2 linked regions of the Homo sapiens genome follow. The protein of the gene in region 2 purifies or fractionates together with the protein of the main gene of each other region. This does not show direct contact. Each region holds a gene or a part of one and is shown on either strand. Other genes may lie near its edges.

Region 1 (3,917 bases), on a different chromosome or scaffold from region 2:
TTTTGGTAACTCAAGGGGATTTCAAAGTTGAGGGAAGGATATTCAAGTATAGGAGGTTGGGTGGGATATGCAAATATGGGAGGCTAAATGGAGAGACAGAGTGAAGAAGTGAGAGAGGGGATAATTGATAGGAAAAGGTCAAAGGGATCTCAGGGACAGGAAGAGGTCAAAGGGATCTCAGGGATAGAGTTAAGGTGACAGGTGGAGAGGTTAGCCATTGAAAAAAGGAGCAGTTAATATAGAAGGGGTGGAGGTGAGTACTTGTAAATATAAAGACTGGGAGTTTATTGAGGATAGGCATCATATCCTATTCGTTTTGATAATCCCAATGTCTAGCACATTTTTTGGCATGAATTCTGTAAACATCAAGTGCCTGCTCTGTGCCAGGCAGTATTGCAGATGCTGAAGATGTAGCGGTGAGCAAGATAGACAAAGTCTCTGCCGTCTTGGAAAATCCACTCCAATGGGAGAAATAGACAACTCATAATTTCACTTAGTAATAAGTAACTGTGAAGGCAATAAAACCTATTTCATGTGATAGGGCAATTTGTAGTGGGGCTATTTTAGGTAACATGGTCAGGAAATGTCTCTTTGAGAGTTGGCATTTAAATTGAATTGCCATGATGAGGAGGCAGATGTAGAGGAAGAATGTTCTGGGAATTTATAAAGGCCTTGAAATGGGAACAGGCTTGTGTTCAAGAAACAAAAACATGATGAGTGAGTTATCAGTCAATGTCAAATGAATTAATTACTCTTTGCTTTAGGTGTACAGTTGAGAAGTTGAGAGTTTCAAACCTAATGGACTCAGTGACTTTGATGACAGTCTAACAAAGTGGTTAAGAGCTTGGGCACAGAAGCTAGACTGGTTTTGCATCCTGGTTTTGTCATTTGCTAGCTGTGTAACTTTGAGTATATTACATAACTTCTATGCCTCAGTTTTTTAAATATGTAGAATGGGGATCATAATACTAACATGAATTGTTTTGTAGATTAAATGAATCAATGTATGTGCTTGGCATGTTGACTGCTATGAAATATTAGTTACTGTTTTTTGTCTGTTTGTTTTTGCTGAGAATGAGGGGTGTGGGGACTTGAAGAGAAGGCAAGGATCATGTCTTACTCTTTTATTTTTGGTCTCAGTGACTGTGTAGAATGTGGGAATAACTCTTTCATTTATCCAGTGACTGAATAGATATATTTTTGGATGAATGAGGCCAATCAAAATCGGAACATTCTGTTGGGGAAAGGGGTTGGACAGGAAATGTATGAAGGAATGTATGATCTGTTCTGAATGTGAATGGTGGTATAACCATGCACTTGGGAGGCACCATAGCACAGTGGCTAAATGTTAGAGCACTGGAGGTAGACTCCCTTAGTTCACGTCTACCTTTTTCTACTTGTGTTAAATTGGGCAAGTTAATTAGACTTTGTCTGTTTCTTTACTTGTAACTTTGTAGTGTTATCAAAAGGACATTATGTCCGCACCTGGTAAGTGCCCATGAAATGTTACCTGTTGTTATTATTAAAATCACATTTAAAATTCCAACCAGCATGGCACTGTATGTTTTTCCACACAAAATAGAAATGGAGAAAACCTAGTTGAGTTGATTTAGGGTTAAAGAAAAAAGAAATGGAAGGTTTTGGGGACAGTGTTTGACTATATGGTAAAAAGGAAAGTGATGCCAAGAGGGAACTGATAGACTGGAAGATAAAGAGGAGTCAGAGTATCTGGGTCCTGAAGTCCTAGAAGAACAATGTTAGTGAAAACAATAGAGGGGATTGTGACCAAAATGGGGAATCTAAACTTAACCCCCTTAGTTTTTTCAGCTGCTTTATCTCTTTCTTGTTAGAAATGGTATTTGAGTCCATCCTTCAGATGCATGGGATTTTGGTTGTAAGAGGTTAAGTAGTCATTTTAGCAAAAGTTCAGGGATTATTTTATTTTACTTATTTTGAGGCAGGCTGGAGTGCAATGGTGTGAACATAGCTCACTGCAGCCTCAACCTCTTGGGCTCAAGTGATCTTCCTGCCTCAGTCTCCTCCAGTAGCTGGGACTACAGGCATGCACCACCATGCCTGGCTTGTTTTTTATTTTTTGTAGACACAGGGTCTCACCATGTTGTCCAGGCTGGTCTTGAACTCCTGAGCTTAAGTGATCCTCCCACCTCCACCTCCCAAAGTGCTGGGATTATGGGTGTGAGCCACCATGCTCAGCTTGCTCAGGGATTATTACTTGGCACTAACCATTGGCCCTATAAAAATTTATAAGACACAAATTCTAGACTTGAGTTTACTGTCTATCTGGAAGTGCAAGATACAAAGGCAGATACTTATAGAAGTGTTAAATGAAATGACCAAGAAAGTATAACCTACTATGACAAAGGCATGGCATTCTAGGCTGGCTTAAAAGCATCAGCAGAGACAGGAAAGCACAGTTTGTATGTAGGTAACAGTAGGAATTCTGTTAGAGCTAGAATGCAGGTGTCATGAAGGACAGTAGTGGAATTCATTCTGGAAATGGAGGCTTTGGCTAGGATGGGGCATCTTGAAGACCAAGGTAAGAATTAGATTTTATTCAGTAGACACTGATCACCCTTGATGGTTTTAAGCTATGAAGAGACGTTATTTATTGTAGGAATATGTCAGGAAGTAATGCGGGATTGAATCTGTATGTGTACATCTGTATTTGTGCATAGGTAGTAATTTTCTTCATGTAGCTGTTATATCAGTGGAATCCTGTATAGTGTATAAACACAAGTTAAGGCAAAAACTGCTCTATTGGTATACTGGTAGGTAGAAATGTGAAATGAATTAGTTTCCTAACTCAAGAGAAGAAAAAAATCTTGCCTCTGGGCTTAAAAGGAAAATAAAAATGTCAATCTAAAAATACTTTTGTCCTTTAATATATTTGTTTAAAAAATCAACAGAATAGTCTCACTTTTTTCTCAAAAACCAGATTAAACATTTAGGTTTTCTGAGGAGGGGTTAGGTTAATTGAGGTTTAATTTATATACAATAAAATTCATCCTCTTTAAATGTTCATTTGAAGAGTCCTGAAACTATCACCACAGTCAAGTATAGACTGTTTCCATCACTTCATATAAAAAGTTCTGTCAGGCCCTCCTACCCCTGGTTACTGACCGCTGCAAATCAGTTTTCTGTCACTAATATTTTACCTTTTCTAGAATGTCATATAAATCTAGCTCCTTAAGGGCAGGGCCCCCAGGTATTGTTCATCTTTCTGTCTTGTATCTGTATTTCCTGTAAGTGGAAGCTAGACCTTAAGGGTTTATTAGGTGTTCATTAGAAAATTTTTTAGCAAGAATATTGTATATGGCGCTGGGTACTGCATGTTGCATCCCATCCAGAGGTTGTGAGGTTGTCTCACTATTTAATATGTTAAATCTGATTACTTGGGTAAGACGGTACCTACTAGATTTCATCTCTGTAAATGTATGCTTTTTCCATTTGTAAAGAACAAGTAATCACAGGGTAAAAATTTGAGCACATTGTGAATGCCTTTTACCTAATGCTTTTAGCATTCTTTGATAATCCTTGTCTGAGTCAATAATTTCATTAGGGGTTGCAAAATGATGAATTAAAAAATAATTCTGTTATTTCTTCTATGTTTATTAGCTGGTACTCTTCTGCAAAGAAGAGTTGGCCTTCACTGACTGTCAGTGAAATGTAGTTTCTCCTAATCCAGCAGCATAAATGCTTAATTCTCTTCCCTCATTAGCCAAATTGGTGTAATAGTCCAGTGGTGGTGTGGCAGGTGCTGTGGTTAGGCTTTCAGATCCCGCTTTCAGGCACATGTTCCCCTAGCTCTTGGCAATATTGGCAGCTAAAACTGATTGCAGCTGAGTCCCACTCCACGCATTGCCCTGAGCCAAGAGTTGCCTCCCCCAGAGTCATGC
Region 2 (3,917 bases):
CAGCAGGGAAGGCCTCTGAGGAGGGGACACCGAGTCTGAGACCTGAGGTTGAGAAGGCGCCAGCCTGGGATGAGCTGGGGAGAGGGCACACAGGGGGCAGACAGCCAGCGCCCAGGCCCCGCAGTGAGAAAGAGCTGGCTGTGTTCCAGGAACGGCAAGGAGTCCTGCGTGCCTTGGGCCAAGTGAGGGGCGGGTGGGAGGGAATGAAATCTGTGGAGGCAGAAACCGCGCCCCATGACGGGGGAATAGATAGATCTCAGGTCATCTGGCAGGGCTGGGAGCCCGCAGGCCCTGGGGCAGCTGTCAGCCCTGGGGCCTTTGCCTGTGACTCGTGGAGTCCGATCACTTCCTTCACCTGCTCAGAGCCTCCCCTGGCTCCACCCAAAGTCCTCACCGTGGCCTGTAAGGCTCCATACAAGCCATCCCCACCACTGCCCTGTCCTCAAGCTTGGTCTCCCTCTCACTCTCCCTGCTCCAGCCACAGTGGCCTCCTCGTGGACACTCCAACAGGGCAGGCACGTTTCTTTGTTTATTTTTCTCTTTTTAAAACTTTTTTATTTATATATATTTTTTGAGACAGGGTCTTGCTCTGTTGCCCAGGCTGGGGTGCAGTGGCGCAATCATGGCTCACTGCAGCCTCAACCTCCTGGGCTCAAGCCATCCTCCCGCCTCAGCCTCCTGAGCAGCTGGGACTACAGGCACACACCACCATGCCCAGCTAAATTTCATATTTTTGGTAGAGAAAGGGTTTCGCTGTGTTGCCCAGGCTGGTCTCAAACTCCTGGGCTCAAGTGATCTGCCCGCCTCGGCCTCCCAAAGTGCTGGGACTACAGATGTGAGTTACTGTACCCAGCCGGCCAGGCACATTTCTGTCTCAGGGCCTTTGCACTGGCTGTTCCTCTGCCTGGAATGCTCTTCCCCCAGATGTCTGCCCACTTGGCTCCTTCCCCACCTCCTTCAGATCAAATGTTGCCCTCTCAGTGAGATCCCCCTGAAAATTGAAACTGCTCTCTCACCGTCCCTGCGTTTTCTACTCACAAATCGCTATTTAACCAACTCATTTATCGTGATTTTTGTCCAACTCTCTGGTTAGGATGTCAGCTCTGTGAGGGCCGAGATCTCTGTCTCATTCACAGCTGTCTCTCCAGCACTGAGAACAGAGCCTGGCACATGGTAGATGCTCAATAAATTATGATTCAATAAATAAAAGAAGGGAAAGAAAGGAAGGAAAGAGGGAAGGAACTGGCAAGTCTGTGGCTCTTGCGGTTTGTCATCTGTCCTAGCTAGGAGGCAAGAGTGTTAACACGTCTCCTCTTCCCGAATAAGATGGTGCCAGGCTGGGAAACTGAGGCATGAAGGGACTCTTCATAGCAGTCCTGGAGCAGTGAAGAAGGAGCCAGGCTTCAGACCAACTCTCAGTGCCGGGCTCAGAAGAAAAAGCCCCTGACGCCACCTGCTGGTGAGTAGTGTCATGACGGTTGTGCCCACCTGGCGATGCCCTTGCCAGGTGGGCAGGAGAGGAGGAAGCCCAGCGGCATCCCCCGCAGATGTGCAGAATCCATGGAGCCAGAGCTTAAGCCTCTTCATTCCTGAAGCCCCGTGGGCACCTCGCCCGATCAGAGCTATGCAGGAGGGTGGGGCCCTGCCAGCAGAAACCTGCCGTGTGTCACTCTGTGCCCGCACACCTGCCCTCCCTCCACAGCCAGCCAGGACTCCCACCTCTCCAGGAGGGAACAGCTGCCCCAGCTCCATAGGGCTGCATGTACCCTACATGGGGCCTCTGGAGGGCAGGGGAGTCAGGGCCCACCCAACTCCCCACCCAGGCCTGGGCAGTTTCTGGTCACAGCAGCCAAGGCGGCAAAACCTAGGCTTCTGGAGGAGAGCTGCCGCCATCCCTAGAGGTACATCCTCCGGCCAAACAGGGGTCTCACCACCCAGACATCATCTACGATCTTCCCATCCTGTGAGGGACAAAAACAGGGACAGTAGTTAGAGCTGAAAGCCTGAACTCTGGGGCCACATGGCCTGGGTTCCAGTCCCCTCTCTGCCCTCTGATGGGCTGTACAACCCTGAGCAAGTGGCTAGGCCTCTCTGGGCCTCAGTTTTCCTCATCTGAAAAGTGATAGGAAGAGTAACAGTACCCACATCATAGATGTTGTGGGAGTTAAATGAGATAGTATTTGTAAACAGAGCCCAGCATATGGAAAGGGCTATGTAAGTGTAGGCTATTATTAGAGCACAAACTCTGGAGTCAGACAGACCTTGCTTTATATTCCAGCACATCCACTCTTTCTCTCTCTCTCCTTTTTTTTTTTTTTTTTTTTTTTTAGACAGAGTCTTGCTCTGTCACCCAGGCTGGAGTGCAGTGGCAACCTCCGCTTCCCAGGTTCAAGCCATTCTCCTGCCCCAGCCTCCCAAGTAGCTGGGATTACAGGCATGCACCACCATGCCTGGCTAATTTTTGTATTTTTACTAGAGACAAGGTTTCACCATGTTGGCCAGGCTGGTCTCGAACTCCTGACCTCAAGTGATCCGCCTGCCTCAGCCTCCCAAAGGCATGAGCTGCTGCACCTGGCCAGCGCATCCACCCTCTAGGTGGCCTTAAGCATGTTGCTGGACTCTCTGAGCAAAACTTCCATGTTCTATGCAATGCACAAAGTAATAGATGCCCAGAGTCATCATGAGAACAGAGTGAGATCATGCACACAAAAGTCTGCGCCCGGTGCATGTGCCACTCGATAAATGGTAGCTATCAGATCCCAGCTTGGCCGTCCTCCAACTGTGTGACCCTGGGAAAATTACTTCCCCTCTCTGAGCCTCAGTTCCCTCACCTATAAAATGGAGAGGAAATCCACTCCTGTGGGATTGTTTTGGTGTATAAAGTGCTACTGGGGCCGCATGCGGTGGCTCATGCCTGTAATCCCAGCACTTTGGGAGGCCCAGGTGGGTGGATCACCTGAGGTCAGGAGTTCAAGACCAGCCTGGCTAACATGGTGAAACCCCATCTCTACTAAAAATACAAAAAATTAGCCGGGTGTGGTGGCATGTGCCTGTAATCCCAGCTACTCGGGAGGCTGAGGCAGGAGAATTGCTTGAACCTGGGAGGTGGAGGTTGCAGTGAGCTTAGATTGCACCACTGCACTCTAGCCTGGGCGACAGGGTGAAACTCTGTCTCAAAAACAAATAAATAAATAAAGTGCTACTAAATGCAGAGCATCTAGGCAGTGCCTGGTATGCAGTAGGTGCTCAATAAATCATAAATATTGTCATTATTTTAAAACTACAATGGCAAAAATAAAGAAAGGTGAGCCATTATTATTTGGATCCACCTAACCTTAAGCCACCTGTACCACATACTCATCTTATTGTTTTCCCCTACCTGTGTCCCACCCCCCATCTTTATCTTCCCCTGCCTCACAATGGTAAATACCTACAGAATTTACCAAGTTCCGCACTCTTCTAAGCATTTTATATATAATAAGTCCTTCAACCCCCATGTAGTCCTGTGAGGTGGAAACTATGATTATCCCCTCTCACAGATGGGAAAACTGAGGCAAAGAAGTTAGATAAGTGGGCCCAGCACAGTGGCTCACACCTGTAATCCCAGCACTTTGGGAGGTTGAGGCAGGCAGATCACCTGATGTCAGGAGTTCGAGACCATTCTGGCCAACACAGTGAAACCCTGTCTCTACTAAAAATACAAAAAATTAGCCGGGTGTGGTGGTGGGCGCCTGTGATCCCAGCTACTCGGGAGGCTGAGGTAGGAGAATTGCCTGAACCTGGGAGGTGGCGGTTGCAGTAAACCAAGACTGCACCACTGCATTCCAGCCTGGGTGACAGAGCGAGACTCCATCTCAAAAAAAAAAAAAAAAAATTAGATGAGTGACTCAAGGTCACTCAGCTGGTAAGCAGCAGGA

Evidence for each region.
Region 1: the proteins of ACP7 (region 2) and MYCBP2 purify together in Homo sapiens (affinity purification with mass spectrometry; 2 studies listed by BioGRID and IntAct, with this or other methods). This does not show direct contact.

The regions. Positions count from the first base shown.
Region 1 is NC_000013.11:77,320,178-77,324,094, reverse strand, and holds part of MYCBP2 (E3 ubiquitin-protein ligase MYCBP2), read left to right. Parts: intron 1-3,917. UniProt on the Homo sapiens protein: Atypical E3 ubiquitin-protein ligase which specifically mediates ubiquitination of threonine and serine residues on target proteins, instead of ubiquitinating lysine residues.
Region 2 is NC_000019.10:39,108,097-39,112,013, reverse strand, and holds the end of ACP7 (acid phosphatase type 7 isoform 1 precursor), read right to left. Parts: intron 1,962-3,917; coding exon 1,896-1,961; 3' UTR 521-1,895; downstream 1-520.